Linked DNA regions of Homo sapiens: region 1 is linked to region 2. Evidence: fine-mapped expression QTL. A gene starts in region 2. The other region holds a variant in brackets. All regions are shown on one strand. Distances are from middle to middle.

What was found. PIP is the estimated chance that this variant, and not a neighbour inherited with it, causes the effect.
Region 1: its variant is the best candidate, but not a certain one, in a credible set for the expression of PRRC2B in whole blood (INTERVAL, PIP 0.77).

Annotation. Positions count from the first base shown.
Region 1 is chr9:131,482,822-131,494,574 of GRCh38, forward strand. PRRC2B (proline rich coiled-coil 2B) reads left to right here. Exons shown (of 32, transcript NM_013318.4): 22 at 1-86; 23 at 538-624; 24 at 1,865-1,969; 25 at 2,127-2,319; 26 at 3,264-3,361; 27 at 4,346-4,473; 28 at 5,035-5,275; 29 at 8,604-8,759; 30 at 9,348-9,439; 31 at 11,584-11,665. SNORD62A (small nucleolar RNA, C/D box 62A) reads left to right here and starts at 2,844; the gene lies at 2,844-2,929. It overlaps SNORD62B (small nucleolar RNA, C/D box 62B), which reads left to right and starts at 7,665; the gene lies at 7,665-7,750. RefSeq lists an enhancer at 6,376-6,876. The variant C/CTT (reference allele first, on the strand shown) is at 3,770.
Region 2 is chr9:131,389,621-131,400,018 of GRCh38, forward strand. It overlaps PRRC2B (proline rich coiled-coil 2B), which reads left to right and starts at 4,466. Exons shown (of 32, transcript NM_013318.4): 1 at 4,466-4,643. RefSeq lists enhancers at 3,690-3,839, 4,966-5,727, 6,490-7,251, 8,869-8,948 and silencers at 4,310-4,499, 4,530-4,639, 4,870-5,159.

The DNA.
Region 1 (11,753 bases), 94 kb after region 2:
CTGTCGTCCCGCCTGTTAACGGGGTGGAGATTCACGTGGACTCCGTGCTGCCTGTGCCACCCATTGAATTTGGAGTCAGTCCAAAAGTGAGGCTTTGATTTGTTTTCTTGCTTGCTTTTTTTACTTTTTATTTTGGTACTTGGAGAGGCTGGGGGCTCAGATGGGATTGTCTCCTAGAAGGAATAGAAGGATGGGAGCCAAGCAGTCTTCCAGCGGCTAGAGTGTTGGTGTGGAGTCCTGCACATGGCCAGTGCTCTGTTGAGTTGCTTTAAAGATTGCTTCACTGACACCAGACAGGCCAGTGATCTTCCCTGTTTCTGTCAGGCCACCCAAGGGACAGGGAGAAAGAAGTGAGGCTGGCGTCCTGTCTCCTGTGCCGTGGGGAAAATCTGGCCATCTCGCTCATATGTGGCTCCAGTGAATGCTGCTCAGTGGAGTTTTTGAGTCGGGGAAACTGCATCACGTTAATGTATGCCTCTGGGGAATGTAGGGCCAGGAGGATCTCAGTGGGCTGTGTGGCCTTTTTTATTTTTTCAGGACTCCGATTTCAGCTTGCCACCTGGTTCTGCCTCTGGTCCTACTGGGAGTCCAGTTGTTAAACTTCAGGATGCCTTGGCCAGTAATGTAAGTCCACACTTCCACTTTTGGCTCCACTCACTGCTTGGGGCTGGCAGGCCCTGGGTGAAGGAGACAGCACATGTATTTCAGGCTGACCTGGGCTGGCACGTGACTCAGTTGCTAGCAGCTCCATGTCCTTAAAAGGTGCTTAAATGTTCCTGCCCAGGTTTTGTGACCTTCCAGTGGGGATCATACAGTTCCTAAGGGCTGGTTTATTTGGCTCTCTTTGGTTCCATTGTCTCCTCTGTGCCAGGTGCGAGCCCAGACTCAGGCTGCCTTTTCTGTGGCCAGGGGTAAGGGGCACAGATTGAGTAGGAGAGCCCTCCTCAGGAGGCCCCATCTCACCATCCAAGGGTCCCTGCCGCCTGCAATCTAACTGTTGTGATCCAGAAGACCTGCTGGCGCTCTACCATGGGCTCAGGAGCTGGCAGTTGCATCTGTTGTGGCCACTCGGGGCTGCAGCTGAGGCTGTCGCAGTGACATCTGGTTCACTGCTCTGTCCTCACCACCTGCAGGGGTGGGTGCTAGTGCATATGCTGAATGAACGAGTATCATTTGGGCAGCGTTTCCCAGAGGATTCCAAGGAATGTGAGTGCTGTACAATATTCATAGGTGTTGAATGAAAACAATGTTTTGGAAGTGCTGGGCTCTACGAGGTTCTTTACTCGAGAGTCTGCGGTCTCTGTCACATGCAGATGGACACCGGGGATCTGCAGGAAGCGGGGGCACTGTTGCATTTCCAGCCTCTGTTACCAGAGCCCTCTTTTTCAGTTTGCTGAGGGGCACAGCCTTCCCTGTCTGGCCCAGGGCATCTCCAGGCCAGGTGGCAGGTGCCTTCTGAACCAGATGTTTGTGTGCGGGCTGCCAGTCCATATTTATACTGCCGGGACATGGCTCTCCCTGTCTGGAGGGCACTATGGAGTGTGGATATGGGGGTGGCTCTCTGCAGACTTGTGTGGAGGAAACTGATGGAGGCAGCCATCTCCAGGAGATCAGTCATGGTCCTGGCTGCCATCAGTTTCATCTGGGTGGTCTTGGGTACATGTGGCCAATACTGAAGATGCATTTGGACAATTCATAGACACGGAGCTGTAGGTGCTTTTGGGAAAAGCCATGGATGGGTTTGGGCAAGTCATAGATACATTTGGACGAGCCTTGAGTGTGTTCAGGAGAGCCATGGATGGGTTTGGGCAAAGCCATCTCTGCACCTGTTTGTGTTCCATGGTTTCCTTTTCCTCCTCTCCAGGCAGGGTTAACACAGAGTATCCCCATCCTGCGGCGGGACCATCACATCCAGAGGGCCATCGGTCTCTCCCCAATGTCCTTCCCCACCGCCGACCTTACTCTGAAGGTAACACCAGCCCTGAGCTGGGTGAGGGCCCACCCAGTACCTTAGCTTACAAAGAGGCAGAAGGGAGGAGTCCCCGAACCCCTAAAGCTTAGATTGGCTCTGTCCACTGCCAGCGTGATAGTAATTTTCATCCCTCCCCCTCCCCTTGCTTCTGAAGATGGAGTCTGCGCGCAAGGCTTGGGAAAACTCCCCCAGTTTGCCGGAGCAGAGCTCTCCAGGCGGCGCTGGCTCAGGCATCCAGCCTCCATCCTCTGTGGGTGCCTCCAGCGGGGTCAACTACAGCTCCTTCGGTGGAGTGTCCATGCCACCCATGCCTGTGGCCTCTGTAGCACCTTCTGCTTCTATGCCAGGTATCTCATCCCCTGAGCAAGGCCTTGGGGTCCTTCTCCATTTATTATCAAGAAAAACGGATTAACAGCCCCGAATGTCACCTCCTGGCCTTGTCTTAAGTAGCATGTAGAAGTAGCAACTTGTTTTTAGGCCCAGTGGTCGTAGCTCCCATGTGCTGCAGGTAATGTGCACGTCCTGCTTCCCCACGCTGGGAAACAGAACTGGGGGATAACAGCGAGGCACTCCTGCCTACTGGTGACAGGAGCGAGCAAAGGCTTGACTTTGAGTCAGACCTGGGTCATGTGCTGGAGCCGTGTCGCCTCGGCTGGTGAGCAGCTCTTGCCGAGCCACAGTGTCCTCTCCTCTCTTACATGAAACTCCGTGGGGTGGCCACACCCGTGAGGCCAGGTCTTACCTGGAAAGGGCTTTGTATCAACAGAGCCCTCAGTCACTGGCAGCTACTTTTGTCCTGATTGCTGCCATCCTTATCGTGTGCCAGTGTCCCCAAGGGGAAGCGTGGGGGTTTTGAGGGCCCAGCTGCCAGTCTCAGTGATGTAATTCCAATAGATCCTTCTGACCCTCCACTGTGGACTCAATAGCAGGGAGATGAAGAGGACAGTGACTGAGAGACCAAGGCAGCCCTGGTTAAAGTAGAATGCCCCTTCGAGTGTCTGGGGTAGTTGGTGAGTGGGAGGTGGGAAGGGTAGGCCAGAGCCCACCTGCCTCCTCCCTCCTCCTAGGTCTGACGCTGCACCCTCCCTACGTTCCCTGAGGTGCGTGCCAGGCGTGTTGTGAGCAGGCGTGTGCTTCCGGCACACAGGGAACCTAGCAGCCTCTGTACACACGCCCTCGTCCCCACTGAGTCCCCTGGGTAGAGCAGACCTGTAGACTGTTTCCCTCAGGGACATTGAGAAGTAGTGAGGCTTGATCCTCTTCTACGTCCCTTTTGCCGCTCTGTTTCCAGGCAGCCACCTCCCGCCCCTGTACCTGGATGGCCATGTGTTTGCAAGTCAGCCCCGGCTGGTTCCTCAAACGATACCTCAGCAGCAGAGTTACCAACAGGTGACAGCAGCTAGCCAGGTGGCCTGGCTGGGGGTGGTGGGGAGGAGCCAGTGCAGGGCGGAATTGGCTTGCTCATCTATTTCTCATTGTCTGTCTGGTTTTCCATCCCCCTCACATGTGGTGACCAGCACCTGGCCCGCCACGGCAGCCAGGAGGCATTTGTTAAGCGAATAATCGAGACAGGGAAGAGGAGTGGAGTTGGCTGCTCCAGACTCTGCTTAGTTTTCCTTTCTCAAAGTTCTCCCTCCTGTGTCCTAGCCGGGGAATTAGCTAAAATGGAATTTTCTTTGGTGATCAGGTATCCTTCTGATGAAGAGAAGAAAGGCCTAAACTCCCAGGCATGGATGCATTAGAAAGAGGTAGTCTTAGAAATGAGCAGGCGTTGGTTATTTATGCAGGACTGGCATA[C/CTT]TTTCTGTGCTGCCAAGGGGTGATTTTTGGAAGTCTCCCCTCTAATGCTGGTGCTGGGCCTTTGGGATGGTCTAGCCGCCCCTCAGACCCATGTGCCTCCACAGCCACGACAGTGGACTTCCAGGCAGAATCTGCTCCAAGTGCAGGCTTGCTGATGGAGGATGTGGCCTCTGCTGACCTCTTTTTAAAAACATGTTCTTAACTGCTGTATTGTTTGGTTACCAAGATTTTGGTTCTTGCATAACTGGGTCAGACTGCATGTATCTTTCTTTTTGTGCATTGTTAAATTCAGCGTTATGTTTTTGGAACTCACCTCTGTTGACGTATGTGCTAGGATCCATTTTTGTTGCTGTGTAGAATTCCAGGGTAGGGATATGCTGTGGTTTGGGGTTGCTACCAGTTTTTCATTATAGGCTTTATCCCAATAGCAAGGGAAGCCCAGGAATGACATGCTGGCATTTGAATTTTGGGCAGTGTTCCAGCAGCCATGTGGAGAGGGGCAGGGGAGGTGGGAGGGGAAGAACCACCTGGATGGGCCTTGCGGTTACCTCCCCGACCCCGTTTTCCCGTTCACAGGCCGCCGCTGCCCAGCAGATCCCGATCTCCCTTCACACATCTCTGCAGGCACAAGCTCAGCTTGGACTGAGGGGTGGGCTTCCTGTGTCCCAGTCCCAGGAGATCTTCAGCTCCTTGCAGCCCTTCAGGTGAGCTCATGTACCAGCTTGCGGAGCTGGCAGCTCACAGCCAGGGCCTTGGCCCTGTGTGCAGCCTTCGTCCTGCAGCTGTTTGGTGCTTGTCTGCTTTGGGGCCAGTGGGGCGGGGAGGGGTGGGAGTTTGCTCTGAATCACTCTTCAGTCCGTTGTTAACTGTGCTCTAGGAGAGGCCTGGGGCGAGCTGATATGTGGTGGGCCGTGTTTTGCTTTTCCATGTCATCTTGCCTCCTTTCCTTGCTCCTTCCTCCTCCTCTCCCCTTGACTCCCTGTCTCCTCCCCACCGCGGGCTTCTCCGTCAGTGTGGCTGCCAGTCATTGTGGCTGATGTCCTGTGCCTCGTACAGCCTGGATGTCTTCACTTGTTTAATCCAGCAGCATCAGCGCCATCTAGGAGCTTGTTCTCAGGCCCCATCCTGGACCCTCTGAGTCGCGCTCTGGGGGTGGGGCCGGGGATCTGTGGTTTAGCAAGCTCTCCGGGGATCTCTGAAGGGTGGGACCAGATCCGCAGCTGGACTCATCCACCTGATCCCGACCATCTGTCTGGCTTTTGCAGATCTCAGGTGTACATGCACCCCAGCCTGTCACCGCCCAGCACCATGATCCTCTCTGGGGGCACAGCCTTGAAGCCTCCATACTCGGCGTTCCCAGGCATGCAGCCCTTGGAGATGGTGAAGCCGCAGTCTGGCTCACCCTACCAGCCCATGAGCGGGAACCAAGCCCTGGTCTACGAGGGCCAGCTCAGCCAGGCTGCTGGCCTGGGTGCCTCCCAGATGTTGGACTCCCAGCTCCCACAGGTCAGGAATTCAGTCACTCTACCCAAAGCCCTAGGCTTCTTTCCTTCACGACCTTGCCTTTTCTTTTCACCCGCCTCTCAGTGTGTGCTGGCCTATCGTGCTGTTGGTTGGTAGCCACCGTGCCCATTCCTCAGCGTGCAGGAAATCAGCCTCTTCTGAGTAGCCCCATCACCTTTTTTTTTTTTTGGACAGAGTCTCGCTCTGTTGCCTAGGCTGGAGTGCAGTGGCATGATCTCGGCTCACTACAACCTCTGTCTCCCACATTCAGGCGATGCTCCTGCCTCAGCCTCCTGAGTAGCTGGGACTACAAGTGTGTGCCACTGTGCCTGGCTAATTTTTGTATTAGTAGAGATGGGGTTTCACCATGTTGGCCAGGCTGGTCTCGAACCCCTGACCTCAAAGTGATCTGCCCGCCTTGGCCTCCCAAAGGGCTGGGATGACAGGCGTGAGCCACCACCCCTGGCCCCTCATCCATCTCTTTATTCTTGAGACCTGGCTGTCCCCTAAGCACTGCCTGCTCCTGCAGCCCCCAGACGGGGGCTCCTTCCTTTCTCCCTGCCCTTGTGCAGTAGGGTGTGGAATGGGTTAAGAGTCCTCTTTGTGTAGTTGTTGATGCTTCTAGACTCCTCTTCTTCCTTCCTCCCTGAAACGCCAGCTTTGAAGCCCACACCATAGACTGTGCCTGACAAGCCCTTCACTCTGCTATGGTGCCATCACCACATCCAGTGTCTGCTGAGAAATCTTCCTCTCCGTCAACCTGTGGGCAGTATTTGGCACCTTTGAAGGTCACCCTCCTTGTCTGGTCTGGCTTGCAGTCTGTCTCCACTCTCCTGTTCCAGTTCCTAGTGGTTTTGATGTCTGCAGAGATGACCCCGGGTCTCTGTGCCATGGACCCTGTCCATGCAGTTTGTGCCCTCCTCGCCACTGGTGCCCTTGTTCACATGGGCCCCTGCTCTGTGCACTCCTGTCTAGGCTTGGCTGCTCCCAGTAGCTGTGGCTCTCGCATAATCTCAACTCTCAGTGTCCCTCTCAGTTGTCACCTCTGGCTTTTTCAATTCACTCCCTCTAGTGACCCAACTCCAAAATTCTTTTTTTTTTTTTTTTTTGAGATGGAGTTTCGCTCTGTTGCCCAGGCTGGAGTGCAGTGGCGCAATCTCGGCTCACTGCAACCTCTCTGTCTCCTGGGTTCAAGCAATTATCGTGCCTCAGCCTCCCGAGTAGCTGGGATTACAGGCGCCCACCACCCACCGGCTAATTTTTGTATTTTTAGTAGAGATGGGGGTTTCACCATGTCAGGCTGATCTCGAACTGCTGACCTCAGTGAGCCACCCACCTTGGCCTCCCAAAGTGCTGGGATTACAGGTGTTAGCCACCACACCCAGTCTCTGCCACCCATGTTTTTGTCATCCTCCCCCTTGGCCTGGCTTCTTCCTCCCCATCAGCAGATCTGCCGAGCCACATGGCCTTTGCATTTCATCCAAGCTGTGGCTCCCAGTCAACCCCCACCCTCCTAGCAGCTTTTCAGACTTGCATCTTGCCCCTCGCTGCCTCCCACCCATGACCTCCCTTTCTGTGTCACCCAGGAAACAGGAGCAGTGACAGTCTCCAAGCCCCTGTGGCCACATCCCTGCCTAGGTGCTGCCTGTGCCCCTGGGGGGCCCTGCCCCAGCACATCTCCCTCTCTTTCATGCATCAGATATCCCTTCCCGTCAGTACACAGACGAGCTGCAGTGCTGACCCCGTAATCCCGCCCCCCACACCCCTCGAACCACTTTCTTCACCCAGTTTCCAGGCCGTCGCTCCTGGCTTTCCTGCTGCCTCAGGCCTCCTCCTCAGTCTCCTTTGCTGTCCCCTCTCCTTCCCAGTCTGTAATGGTCAGCATGCCCGTGGGCCCTGCTTTGGGTGTGTTTCAAGAGTCATGGCTCTAAATTCCTTCATCTTCTCCTCACTCCCAAATGGACATCTTTAGCTCAGATCTGTCCCTGGAATTGAATCTCAAATCCAATGGACTTTCCAGCATGTCTGCTATGGTGTCTTATGGCATCTCAAGACTCATCATATTCAAAACTCGATTTTCCTCCCGGTCCTTCTGCTTGTCCAGTCCACATCCTCCTTGGCTCCCTGCTCCCCCTCACCTCACCCCCTTACCCTTCAGCAGGCCTGTCAGCTCTGGCTTTAAAAGGATTCAGAATCCAGCTGTGTCTCATCCCCTCCACACCCCTGCATGCTGTCCAGCTCCTGTAGGGACTCCTACCTGGCCTCCCTGCAAGTCAGATCATACCCCAAGTCAGCACTCTATAAATGGCAGCATCTTCCCATCATTTTCATCCTGCACCATTTTGGTGCTCCAAGGAGGAGCATGGTGTTTTGCGGCTCTGGCCACCACAAGTCTCAGTGATGTAATTCCAATAGATCCTTCTGACCCTCCACTGTGGACTCAATAGCAGGGAGATGAAGAGGACAGTGACTGAGAGACCAAAAGTGGCCCAGCCCCCCTACCCCATCCTGTTCCCCTGTCCTTACAGTCTCTGGGCCCACATCCCCACCTCGCATATCTTGTTCTAGTTAGTTAGGCCCTGCAGCTACCCTGTTCTCCTGTCAGCATGCTTCAAAGGACCCCCACAGTCTGGAATCCAGCCCAGTCTTGTTTTTACCACCACTTGATGCAAAACAGTAAGAGTCTTGAACGTGTGTGCTGTACAAAGGAATGCAGAGATATACGTCCGATGCAGCTTTCATCTTTTGGGACTTGGCTTCGCCATTACTTCTGACTTTCCTCACTCGTCCTCTCCTTGCCCACCCCGCCCCGTGTGCACCCATAAATCTGGTGTGCACCCACAGATCCTATGCCGCTCTGCATCCCGAGTGTCCTGCAGCTGTGTCCAGTGTGTGACACACTATCCTGGCAGTGTGCAGGCCCATGTTGGACAGGGCCCTGCCGCTTCCTTGGCACCTTGTATGCTTTCAGTAAGCACTTGCTGGACAAAGGCAGAAAGGGCTGAAGATAGACGCAGCCCTTAGCAGAGATGTGGATGAGACACACTTAACGCTGTTAGTTCCCATGCCTGCAGCCAGCTTAGTCTTGCCCGTTTTCTCACCACCTACTCTATTCCAGCAAGAAGACGTGCCTCTGCCATCGAAGGTGTGAAATCCTGGGCGATCTCTCCTGTGCTGCAGTAGAAATTAGAGCATGTCCTGCTTTATGCAGGCTTTGCTTTAGTTCTTCTGAAGTGTATGAATCTGAAGTGCATGTGCGGTCGCTCTTTGGTGCGTTTGGGGTTTCTCCATAGCATCATTCCCCCTCCTGACTGTCATTGTCGCCCAGCAGCTGACCATGCCACTGCCTCGGTACGGCTCCGGGCAGCAGCCACTGATCCTGCCCCAGTCTATTCAGCTGCCACCTGGGCAGAGCCTCTCCGTTGGGGCCCCCCGAAGGATTCCTCCGCCCGGGTCCCAGCCGCCAGTCCTGAACACCAGCAGAGAGGTAAGGGGACCCCATCTGCCTCTGACCCTAGGGAGGGGGCCTTGTGTCACCAACTTTTTCTAGCAAGCTAAGTACCCCTGTGTGGTAGAAAGAGCCAGTGGCGTGGGACTGCCAGGGCAGAAAGGAAGGTGACCATGTGTGGGGCCATCACAGAGGCAGGTCCTGGGGACTCTGAACATGTCGAGGGCTGAGGGCCAGGAATCAGCATTCCTCCCCAGCTCCCCAGGAGGCCCTGCTATGGACGGCCATGTTTCATTGGCTCTCCCACTTCACTTTAAAAAGAACAAAATATTGTGATGGTTCTTGCTTCTAAGAAGAAGCCCTCTTGAGTCTGGCTTAGAGGGAAAGGGCTTGCAGATTTCTCTAGAACAGGGGTCCCCAGTCCCCGGGCTGCAGAGCTGTACTGGTCTGTGGGAAAATTGTCTTCCATGAAACTGGGCCCTGGTGCCAAAAACCACTGCTCTATAAGATGCCTCCCTGGGAATTCCCATGGCCCTCACCACCTCTGCCCTGGGTTGTTCAGTAAGTGTGTGGTCCAGCTGTCTCCAGGGCCTCAAATGACAGCTTGTTCCTGCTTGGTCTCTCTAGCCCTCTCAGATGGAGATGAAAGGCTTCCACTTTGCCGACAGTAAACAGAATGTCCCTTCAGGAGGCCCCGTGCCATCGCCACAGACCTACAGGTAAAGCCACTCCCTGGGGACTGCGTGCTGTGTAGCTGAGCAGTTGCCAGAGCTGCGGCCCAGTGACTCAGAAGAATCTGGGCCCAGGGAGAGCCGCCAGAGACCTGGTCCCTCTATGGGCCATGTGTCACTGTGGTGTTTCAGCACTGGGATGCACTTGTGTTCCAGTTAAATTTGGGGGAGTGAGGAGTCAGGAGAGTGGTTTTGGTTTTAATCATTATAATAAGATGCTCTGGATTGGGGAGCTTTCTGGAAAGGTAGGAAAAGGAACGGCTGACATTTAGTAGGCATCAGGACTGACGTGACTTCCCATTAGATCCTAAAAACAGGACCCACTGGCCACAGGGCTGCATCCTGGCAAGGGGAGGAGCGTGGCCTTTCCCAGCGTCTCTTTCCTCAGACTTGCCCTATGACCCCTGCCAGGGGACTTTTTATTGCTGGGCTTATGGGGCCATTCCTTCCATGCTACAAACCAGCACCCTCTTTTTGCTTCCTTTGTGTCTGTCTCCACCTCCAGCAACTGTCTCAGGTCCCCTTAGCTGGATACTCAGGTGGCTCTGTCGGATGTTGGCGAGAGCCTCTGGTCCACTGCCTTTTCTGCCCGTGCTGGTGTGTGAAGGCAGCACGCTCTGGCCCTGGGCTCCGAGGGCTTGTACAGTCCACCCTTGTTACATGTGGGAGATTCCTGAGACCCCTCTGTGTTTACAAATGAGTGAAACAGACCTGCCTGACCCATGGTGCCCTGTGAGGTTAACACCATCGCTGCAGACGCCATGAGGTATCCCCACGACTACACAGGTACTTGTGGGCCTGAGGAGCGCTCTGCAAGCCGGGCCCCCATGGTCTGCAAGTTGCTCCAGCTGCACCCCCTCTGCCTTGCTGCCCTCCCTCTGCCCCACCGCCCTTTGCCTGTCCTCCATCACAGCATTCCACTCTTGTACCTTCATTTCCAGAGAAAGGGGTTTTTGTAGATTTTCCTCCCATTCCATCTTTTCTGTTCTTATTTTCACTCTCCTGGCTTCATTTATTTCTGTTTTTAGTACGTTTCGTTTTCCTACCATGTCTGTCACATAGACCAAAACATCAGGACTGTGTGAAAAAGATAGCTGGACAGCACCGACCATGGAGCGGAACTGGAAGGAGGAAGGCGGCTGCAGGTCTCAGCAGACGCTGTCCCGCTGCTGCCACAGGCAGATTCCAGCAGCCTCTGGCTACAGAGCCTTCCTCAAAAAGCAAAACCCAGAGACAGAGCCTCACGGGACAAGAGTCGCCTGTGTCTATGTAGTTGTAGGAATGAATGGCAGCAGATTATTCTTTGGAGCATATTTAGAAAGTGGAAGCCTTAAACTAGTAGCTTTGTTTCTATGGTGTTTTAGGGGGGTTGGGGAAATTGCTATAATTGTATAAAGCAGTGTTTGCCAAAGTGTTCTGGAAATAGAGCTGCTGAGATGTGCGCTGCAAAAACAAGGGTTCCCTGGTCAGGTCCTTGGGGGAGTGCTGTCCCCAGGGTGGCCTGCTGGGGAGGGTACTCACCACACAGGCTGAGCGGGCCTAGGTTGAGAGTCCTGTTGAACTCTGCACACGGCACTTAGGCTTTTTGACCGCAGACTTTTTTTTTTTCCACGTAGCACCTAATTAACATCCCTGGGAACTAACTAGTGGTCAGTGGAACACATTTAGAAGCATGTTGTACATTTTGGTTCCCCCATCCCCTTTTCTGAAAAGTGAAGACTAGAACAATACTCGGCACAGTTCTGGCTCAGCGTCAGGCTTCTAGGCCTTTTGTCTGGGGCACTGCATCGTGTTGGTCCAGACCCTGAGACGGCCAGTGTCGCTTTCTGCACAGCAGGACAGCCATGCCCATCTGTACAGGGCCTCAGCCTCCCTCTCTTGCGGTGCGTCTCCTTGAGCTCTGTCCTGGAGGTGCCAGGGTGGTCAGTGACAGCCACCCCCTCACCCTTCTGCGTTCTGGGCTGTCTTAGGTCTGTGGTTGTTTTCCATCCAAGAGATCCACGGACCGTCCCGAGTGAGCGCCTCTGGCCGCAGGCCCTTCCTTCCTTGTGCCTCCTCCATGTGCTAGGCTTTGACTCCATTTCTGTGGTGACACGTTGTGTATTCTCAACCCCTGCCTTTGGTTTTTTCAGGCCTAGCTCTGCTAGCCCCAGTGGGAAGCCCTCTGGATCAGCAGTTAACATGGGCTCTGTGCAGGGACACTACGTGCAACAGGTAGAAGATGGCTTTCCAGACCCTTCAGCCCTGGACACTTAGGCCCGTCTCCAAGCGCCAAAAGAGAAGGGACTGTCCAACCTATCTG
Region 2 (10,398 bases):
AGGTTTGGAGGCTTTAGTGCATGTGCTTATTTGGCTGGTTTTGTGAGCCGTGTGTTTTGTGTGGTTGGTCAGGAGCCATGATTTTGGCCTCAGTTGTCCAGGCATCCACTTTTCAACCACCATGGAGATTGAGTGCTTACTTTGTGCCAAGCTCTCTTCTCTGCTTGGGGATCCCAGCTGGAGAGACACCACAGTGCTCCCCACCCAATTTTCGCAGGTAGAAACTCTTAGGCACCAAAAGGCTAGCTCTGCTGGTTGGAGACAGAACCAGAACTAAAACCTCGGAACATGGTTGTTTTTTTTTTTGTTTTTTTTTTTTTTGAGATGGAGTCCTGTTTTGTCGCCAAGCTGGAGTGCAGTGGCGATCTTGGCTCACTGCAACCTCCAACTCTTGGGTTCAAGCGATTCTCCTGCCTCAGCCTCCCGAGCGATTACAGGTGCCCGCCACCACGCCTGGCTAGTTTTTGTATTTTTGGTAGAGACAGGGTTTCACCGTGTTGGCCAGGATGGTCTTGATCTCCTGACCTCGTGGTCCTCCCGCCTTGGCTTCCCAAAGTGCTGGGATTACAGGCGTGAGCCACTGCGTCTGGCCTGTGTTTGTTTTATTGACTGTAGTGGCCCTTCTCTGCCCAGTTCAACAGCATGGCCCCAGAGCCTGGCACAGTGAGCACCAGAGTGCAGGTGCCCAGTGAATGAACGGACGAACTTTGATTCCCAGGGCTCTCCTCTGGGCTAAGCACTTTGCAGGGATGGATGACTGCATGCCATTCTCTCCATGAGGATGGTCAGGGAGGTAGGAGATGGCTGAGCTGGATTTGAAGCCAGGTCTCTTCTCTCCCAAGACTCCTAGCTTGCCTTTTTTTTTTTTTTTTTTTTTTTTGAGACAGAGTCTTGCTCTGTCGCCCAGGCTGGAGTGCAGTGGTGTGATCTCAGCTCAGTGCAAGCTCTGCCTCCCAGGTTCATGCCATTGTCCTGCCTCAGCCTCCCGAGTAGCTGGGACTATAGGCGCCCGCCACCACGCCTGGCTAATTTTTTGTATTTTTAGTAGAGATGGGGTTTCACCATGTTAGCCAGGATGGTCTCGATCTCTTGACCTCGTGACCCACCTGCCTCGGCCTCCCAAAGTGCTGGGATTACAGGCGTGAGCCACTGTGCCCTAGCTTTTTTTTTTTTTTTTTTTTTTTGATACAGAGTCTCGCTCTGTCGCCCAGGCTATAGTGCAATGGTGCAATCTCGGCTCACTGCAACCTCCACCTCCCAGGTTCAAGCAGTTCTCCTGCCTCAGCTTCTTGAGTAGCTGGGATTACAGGCACATACCACCAGGCCTGGCTAATTTTTGTATTTTTAGTAGAGACAGGGTTTCACCATGTTGGTCAGGCTGGTCTCGAACGCCTGACCAAGTGATCTGCCCACCTCAGCCTCCCAAAGTCCTGGGATTACAGGCTTGAGCCACTGTGTCTGGCCCTAGCTTGCCTTTTAACCCTTCCCTCGCTGTGTTGCCTTCAGCAAGTCTCCAAGGTTGTACTAGTTTTCTATTGCTACATTACCACACATTTAGTGGCTTATGTAACTTTGTTATCTTAAAGTTCTGGAGGTCACGGTGGTTGGCAGGGCTCATTTTCTTCTGGAGGCTTTAGGGGAGAATCCATTCCTTGTCCTTTGTAGCTTCTAGAGGCAGCCTGCATTTCTGGGCGTGAGGTCCTGCGTCATTCCTTTGTCAGTCAATATGATGAACTCCGCTTCATCAACCACATCTTCTCCGACTCCGACCCTCCTTCCTTCCTCTTGTGAGGACCCTTGTGATTCCACCTGCCCAACCAAATAATCCAGGATTCATCTCTGCATCTCAAGATCCTTAACTTCATCCCATCTACAGAATCCCTTTTGCCAGAGAAGGTACCATTTTCACAGATTTCAGGGATCAGGACTTGGACATCTTTGGTGGGGGGCATTGTATTGCCTCCACAAAGTCTACTTTTCTTCTCTGTTGGATGGGCACACTAGTGTCTGTTTTATGGGTATGTCGTGAGGATTACCTGAGTGACTCTATAGGGAGTGTTTAGCACAGTGGCTGTCACATAGTAAGTGCTCAGTAAACCACCCTGTTACTGTTCAGCCTCCTCCTATCATTTTGTTTTGAGACAGAGTCTCTCTCTGTTGCCCAGGCTGGAGTGAAGTGGCGTGCTCTTGGCTCACTGCAACCTCCACCTCCTGGGTTCAAGTGATTCTTGTGCCTCAGCCTCCCGAGTAGCTGGGATTACAGGACCCCACCACCATGCCCGGCTAATTTTTGTATTTTTAGTAGAGACGGGGTTTCACCATGTTGGCCAGACTGGTCTCAAACTCCTGACCTCAGGTGATCTGCCTGCCTCGGCCTCCCAAAGTGGTGGGATTACAGGGGTGAGCCACCACGCTTGGCCTTACAAATAAAGAATCTGAGGCTTCAGATAGTTTATTTCTTTTTTGCTTGTTTATTTTCTTTCTTTTTTTTTTTTTGAGATGGAGTCTCACTCTGTCACCCAGGCTGGAGTGCAGTGGCATGATCTCGGCTCAGTGCAACCTCCGCCACCCGGGTTTGAGCAATTCTTCTGCCTCAGCCTCCCAAGTAGCTGGGATTACAGGCGACTGCCACCATGCCTGGCTAATTTTTGTATTTTTAGTAGAGATGGGGTTTCACCATATTGGTCAGGCTGGTCTTGAACTCCTGACCGCATGATCCACCTGCCTCGACCTACCAAAGTGGTGGGATTACAGGTGTTAGCCACTGCGCCAGCCTTACAGATGAAGAACCTGAGGCTCAGTTTATTTATTTAATTTATTTTTTATTTGTTTATTTGCCTTCTATCATTTTTATTAGTTGCTGGGTTTTGAGCACTGGGCCAATTCTATGGCCTTCCTGAAGATGGTCAAGGAACAAAATCGAAAACAAAAATTAGGGTTACATCCTCCCTGTTTTGTAGAGATAGCGAAATATTGAAGACATTGGCAGGGGAATAATGCAGATTTGATGATGTAAAACAGAGTGGCCGGCACTGTAATCCCAACACTTTGGGAGGCCAAGGTAGGTGGATCACTTTAGCGCAGGAGTTCCAGACCAACTTGGCCAACATGGTGAAATCCCATCTCTACCAAAAATACAAAAATTAGCTGGGCATGGTGGCAGATGTCTGTAATCCCAGCTACTCAGGAGGCTGGGGCAGGAGAATCGCTTGAATCTAGGAGTTGGAGGTTGCAGTGAGCAGAGATTGCGGATTGTGCCACTGCACTCCAGCCTGGGGGACAGAGCGAGACTGTCTCAAAAAAAAAAAAAAAGAAAAAAGAAAAAAAGGATAACACTGAAAATGACCATGGATAAAATGTAGGAAAATTCAGAGAATTATAAATAAGGCTATAAAAGTATCCAGAATTCTACTCCCCAAAAACTAAGCTTTGTTCACCAGCCTCAGTTCTGGAGTTAGGCTGAAGTGGGTTAATTTTCCTTCTGGGTCCAGCAGTGTGGCCTGGGGCACATTCTCTCAAAGCCTCCTTTGTCTCACCTGTGAATTAGAACAATAATATCTGCCCCTGGGTTAGGATTAAGTGAGACAAACCACGTGCTTTAGCATAGGGCATGGCCCGCAGCTGGTGCTTAGAGCAACCGTGACTGGAAGAGGGTGGGATGATTTGGGTGCCAGGCCCTAACATTTTTTTTTTGTATTTGCTTTTTGAAATTGCTTTTATAGTTGGTTAGGTGTCTAAAAAAGTAAGAACCCTCCTCCGCTCTCCCAACCTCAAACCACGGAGGTAACCAAGACAGGAGTGCAGTCTCCCGGACCTTTTGTTTTGCAATCACACAAACACACAACACTCAAGAGGAGGGGCTTATTAGTTTTCATTTTGTAAAAATGGGACAAAGTACCCATATTGTGCAACAACCTTGCTTTTGAAATGAAAAAAGTATTATTTCTGCTTCCTTTCCGTTCATATACCGTATACATATTTTAACAAAATCCGGGCTTAGTCTGTTCTGAGGCGCTGCAGTTTTGAAGGGGGAGGGGGCGGAGATCCGGGCTCGCTCCCCCGTCACTGCCCCCTCCATCCCTTCCCCCTCTTTCCGGGCGCCCTTCCCCCGGGCCCAGGCCGGGCCCATGCCCTTCCCAGGCCCCTTCTCTTGGCTCCTGGCCCCTCCTCCGGGTCTCCTCCCCGATCCCCGCTCTGCCCCGTTCTCTCCCGCCTCTCCCGCCGTCCCCGGGCCCCTCCCCACTCCCAGCCCCCTCCCAGCCCCCTCCCGCCGCTCCCCGCCCCTCCCCCCTGGCCCCAGCCCTCGCCCGGCCCCCGGGCCGATCCCAAGGCCGCCGCTCCCGGGAGGCGCGGCAGGGGGCGCTGCGCGGGCCCAGGTTGCGGGCGGCGGCGGGAGGAGGAGGACGAGGAGGCGGGGGCGGCGGCAGGCGGGGGGCGGGGAGCCGAGCGCGAGGGAGCGAGCGGCGAGACAGGCGCCGAGGCTCCACCGCGCAGCGACGAGCGAGCCCGGGAGGAGGGAGGGAGCGAGCGAGCGAGCAGCCCGCGCCGCCGCCTCGCAATCCGCCGCCATCCCGCCGCCCCCGTGCCCGACCGCCGCCCGACTGCCATCGCCCGGCCCGGCCGCGCCCGCGGAACCAGACCAGGTGGGTCGGGGCCGGGGCCGGGGCCGGGGCGTGGGGGCGGCGGCGCTAAGATGGAGGCGGCGCGGCCCGGCCGGGCTTTGTCTCCCGCGGCCGCCGCCGGGGGCCCGGGGGCCCTGCGGCCCTGCCCGACCTTTGTCCGCGAGCGCGGCCGCCGCCGCCTCCTTCCCGCCGGGCGCGGGGCTGCGGGGCTGGGAGGCCGCGGGGCCTGGGGGCGGCGGGCCCGGGCGCGCTCGCCATTGTTGTGGCGGCGCCGCGCGGCCTCAGGCTCGGGCGGGGTCCAGGGGCCGCGCGACTCCCTCAGGGCTCGCCCGCCACCCCCGTACCCCCGAGGCCGGGCCGGGCTGCAGAGGCCGGAGGGGCGGGGGTCCCGGGCCCGCAGCCGGGTCTCGGGGTTCTGGGGCCGGCGTCTTTGCTCCCCGCCCCGCCCAATTGACGGAGCAGCGCGCCCGAGGCGGGATCCTGCGGGGTCGGGCCTTGGGTCCGGGGCGCTGAGCGGCGTTCGCGGGGCCGTTCCTGGCGCGGGGTGGGCCGGGCCCCGGCGGCGCTAAAGTTGGCGGCTGGGGGAGGGAGGCGAGCGGCCGCCCAGTCTCGGTGTGAGTGCGGGAACCAGAGGGTTATTTTCGAAATGCTGAATGCTCCATGCTAAAAATGTTTAATAATAAACAGGATGTCGCCACTCGGGGCCTGCCAGATGGGGTTTTTTTTTTTTTCCTCCTCTTTTGCCTCCCCTCAACCCCCAGGAGAGAAATTCAGCCCTGTTGAAACTGTGGGCCTCTGAAGAGTGGATTTGCCTTAAGAGGTGGATTTTTTTCCTTTTTCTTTTTTCCTCCTTCTAAATATCGTGGGAGGTCGGAGCCCACCTTTAGGCAAGAATTGGAGGTGTTTTCAGTGGTGAGCTTGAAGGAAGTGGGAGAAGGGGGGCTGGGGAGTGTCTTTTGCTAAATGGCTTCCTGGGAGAAATCTTTAAATGCCTTTGGTTTACAGGACTGTTAAACTTTCCCTAAGATTTTTTTTTTCTTTAAGGTTTAGTGTGCATTTGATGTGGCTTTGTACAGTGTCATCCAGTTTGGTTTTTGTAACCAATTGTGTGCGGTCTTAGCATGGTTTTTCCGAATCTCGCTGCAGCCATTTAGTCATGTCTATGCACAGCGCTGTGGTGTAAGGTGGGACTGGGGAGGCCCAGGCATTGGGGTGCAGATCCTGCTTCTTTCTTCCGTAAACCTAGTGACTCTGGGGCTGTCTGAGGCTTCATCTGCATAAATCGGGGCGTGCACCCTCCACCTGGCAGGTTTGGGCAGCGGTGAAGGGCCTAGCAGAGGGCCTGGCACAGTTAGTGGTTCCTCCTACGGTTGTTGGTATAACTGCTGTCAAGTCCTAGGACAGACGTGAGCCCCTTGTGGTGCCACCCATAGAGCCAAACTGTGCCCATGGATGCCACAGGTGCTGGCCTAAGGCATGGACAATACAGAAGGAATTCAAGGCCCAAACATTAGTGGGCGCTTATACAGTGCTGAGCCTCTCGGGAGGCAGGGATGGGAAAAAGTAGCATTTGGAGGTCTCTAGAACTTAGTAGACCCGGAGTGTGTGGCAGTTGGTCAGTTTAAGGCAGGGTTAGAACAGTACGAGATGCTCAGGACAAACAGACGCCCAAGGAGTCCTGCCTTCTGAGGATAACTGCTTTCCTTGGGGATTGGCAGATAATCATCTGAGAGTGAGTTTCTACTTGTTTGGGCAAGTGTGTCTCTTGGAGCCTGCGCAGCTGGATTCTGGTCCTCATCGGGTTACCTTTACAAAGCAAGTCTCTGAGGCTCAGATCTTGCATCTGTAAAATGGGAATAATTATGCCTGCCTTGGGTATCTATTAGGGCTCTTGGGAGCCTCACTTAAGATTCACAGTGAATTGTTTTCTCTCCATAGGAAGGTGATGAAATGTATGTGTTTGTTGATTATCTGTTTTTCTGGTTCCTTTCTCCTTCCTTCCTCCCTTGCCCTCTTCCTCTCTCCCTCCCTCCCTTTCCCTTCCTTTTCCTTCCTTCCCTTCCTTCTTTTTTCTTTTCTTTTCTTTTTTTTTTTTTTTTTTTTGAGACAGTCTCACTCTGTCGCCCAGGCTGGAGTGCAGTGATGTGATCTCAGCTCACTGCAACCTCCGCCTCCTGGGTTCAAGCGATTCTCGTGCCTCAGCCTCTGGAGTAGCTGGGATTACAGGCATGTGCCACCACACCTGGCCAATTTTTGTGTTTTTAGTAGAGACAGGGTTTCACCATGTTGGCCAGGCTAGTCTCAGACATCCGACTTCAGGTGATTTGCCTGCCTTGGCCTCCCAAAGTGCTGGGATTACAGGCCTGAGCTACCGCGCCCGGTCTTCTTTCTCTTAATGCTTATTTTTTCCTCTTCTCTTGGTTGATGGAACTGTGACTTCCCCACCCCAAATTCTATGGCCGGCTAATGTTTTGCTATGGTGACTATCACCCATCTACCTGGAAGCACCAGAATGGCTTAGTACAGCTAGGGAGCTCAGCCAGATCTCGGTGTCTGCTGTTTGAGATTGTGTGGAAGGACTATTGCTAAGAAGCAGGAGACAGACTGAACCCAGTGTTGGCCACAAGTGAGGACTGAGACCCAGGTCACCTCTTGGCTGAACATGTTAGCTTGTTGGTAAATGGCTCTGCAGTGGTTCTGCATTTTATTGGGGAATTTGTTTTGGTTCATTTTGGCATTCCCGCAACCATCTTGTTGGTTTTTTGGTAAAATGTGGCACCCCCTCCAGACCTCCTAGCTGTGGAACTGAGATATTTTAGCAGGGTCCTGTCATCCTTTGATTTTTCCTCGCTTCCTGCCTCTTGGCCCTTCCTTTTTGTCTGACTTCACTCGGGCCCAGTCTGGCTCTATACTGTTAACTGGTTAGTTAGGCCAGGAGATAGTCGCTGCCTCTCCCATGAGCTTCTGCATACCTGTGAATTTTGGTTATCTGTGGCCCCCTAATGCTGATTGCATGCCCTTGCCTTAGGCCCTAAGCCCACTGTGTGGGCGTCCCATCTCGTACAGTGGCCGTCTCCAGCCTCCACTGGGCCCAAATAGGTAAAAAGAAAGCCTGGGGAAGGAAGAGCCAGGAAACCTCGGGAGAGTGGAATTTCAGGAATGGCAGGTCAGAACTGGTTCCAGCATGGGTCCCTTTGCCTTGTGCTTAGCTGAGGGATTTTTGTTATTAATTTTTTTTTTCCTGTTCAACACTCCTAACCTCTTTTGAATTTCAGTTCTCTTTTTTTATCCTGAAGGATTATTTTATTGTACTTTTGAGGGTTTTTTTTTTTTTTTTTTTTTGCCTTGCACAAAGTACTGACTCATGTTGCTAATGGCTGTGGCTGTATGCTAGTTATATGTCTCATTATCCTACCCCTTAAGATTGATCATTTCTGTGTTGGTTTCTATTTCAAACCAGAATAGGCCAGGTGGGTCAATTCATGTATTTCTGAATTCAATAATGAGGCTTCCCTACCGTGAAATGTACATATCTTGTCATGGGCGGACAGGTACTAAATAGAGCCTATCTATACTAGATTTTAAAACAATGGATTTCTCCCCAAAAAACAACATTTCCAGCAGACAATGGGCTTTGTGCTCCAAATCTTGTAATTTTGGTTTTAAATAAATTTCATGTAAGGAGGCAGGGCTAACTAGACTGTCTTCTTTTCAGATCATAACTTGATCTCTTTTTAAGATTATTTCTGGGACTTGTACAGCCTCAGGAAACTTGGGTCTGTCATTGGGACAAAGAAATACAGGCACTGGCTGTGGTGTTGGAGATGGGAGCGACATGGGATATGGTGAGCTTTGTTTCTGGTGAAATAGAATTGTTTGTCATTAGCTTTAGGTTTAAAAGGTGCCATTCAGACTGGACCTCCTCACCTGGGAGCTGGCAGACCTGGGCCTTGCCATTGGCGATATTACTGTTTATACCTCTGGGTGGCACGTGGGAAATCTCTTTTGTGCTGGGAGGTAGGTTTGTCTTAGTGTCTTGAGCCAGAAGTTGTGGTTGAGCTTTGTTCTCAGCTGTACTTGTTGGTTTTCTGTGTGACCTGAGAAGCATCCTTCGTCCGAGCTGAAGTGCACCTCCGAGGTGCTGGCAGCAGCACTGATTTGTGAAGCATTGCGTGCAGCAGGAGTAGCTGGCAGAACAAAGCCTATCTCAAGTTGCTGGCGGTCTTTCACATCTTGTACAGGACTTCCTTCCGTTCTTACCTCTGCAGCCAGTTGTGTGGCTTCCGTCTGGACCGTCTTCCTCCTTTCCAAGATAACCATCAGTCTTTTTCTCTGTGGGGCTGCAGCAGCAGTATTTATTGCATTTTTAATTGACTTGTCAGGCAATAGATACTCCTTGAGCACCTATCATTTGCCAGGCATTGTACAAGGCCCTTTAAATACATTTTTCTTGTGGTAGGGCAAGGTGGCTCATGCCTGTAATCCCAGTACTTGGGGAGGCCAAGGCAGGTGGATTGCTTGAGGCCAGGTTAAGACCAGCCTGGGCAATGTGATGAAAATAAAAAAATGCCTCTTAAAAGAAAAAATTAGTAGGGTATAGTGGCGCATGCCTGTAGTTCTAACTACTTGGGAGGCTGAAGCAGGAGGATCACTTGAGCTTGGGAGGTTGAGGTTGCAGTGAGCCGTGATCATGCCACTGCACTCTAGCCTGGGCGACAGAGTGAGACCCTGTCTCAAAAGAATAAAAAGTAGGTCGGGCACGGTGGCTCACGCCTGTAATCCAAGCACTTTGGCAGGCCGAGGTGGGCGGATCACCTGAGGTCAGGAATTCAAGACCAGCCTGGCCAACATGGTGAAACCCCGTCTCTGCTAAAAATACAAAAATTAGCTGGATGCCGTGGCGAGTGCCTGTAGTCCCAGCTACTCAGGAGGGGTGAGGCTGGAGAATCACTTAAACCTGGGAGGTGGAGGTTGCAGTGAGCCGAGATTGTGCCACTGCATTCCAGCCTGGGAGACAGAGTGAAATTCTGTCTCAAAAAAAAAAAAAAAAAAAAAGTCTGGGCACGGTGGCTCACACCTATAATCCCAGCATTTTGGGAGGCTGAGGTGGGCGGATCACGAGGTCAGGAGATCGAGACCATCCTGGCTAACACGATGAAACCCCGTGTCTACTAAAAATACAAAAAATTAGCCGGGCGTGGTGGCGGGCGCCTGTAGTCCCAGATACTCAGGAGGCTGAGGCAGGAGAATGGCATGAACCCGGGAGGCGGAGTTTGCAGTGAGCCGAGATCACGACACTGCACTCTAGCCTGGGCCACAGAGCGAGACTCCATCTGAAAAAAAAGGAAAATACTGAAAAGAATAAATGCCAAAATAAATATATAAATCACTTGTGACCTCACCATCCAGAGCTAACTGCAGTAAAGTTGCTGGTGTGTTTCTTTCCTCTGATAATGTCTGTGTTTTCTAAATTAGAGCAATAGTATATATACATTGAATACACAGTTGATAGCTTGCTTTTCCCCTTTTAATGTTATAGTGTATTCCTCTACGTTATTTTTATAATTATATAATTGCTATTATACGGATATGCCATAATTTATTGACTCCTGTATTCGTAGACATTTAGATTATTGTTGCCCTCTTTTCCCTCCTATAAGAGAAACTGTAGGGAGCATCTCGGCATGTTAAGTCTTGGTCCACGTGGCTGATTATCTCCCATAAGTGGAATTTCTGGGGTCAGAGGATTGCAGGTTTGTTCTTCTCTTCTGGACAG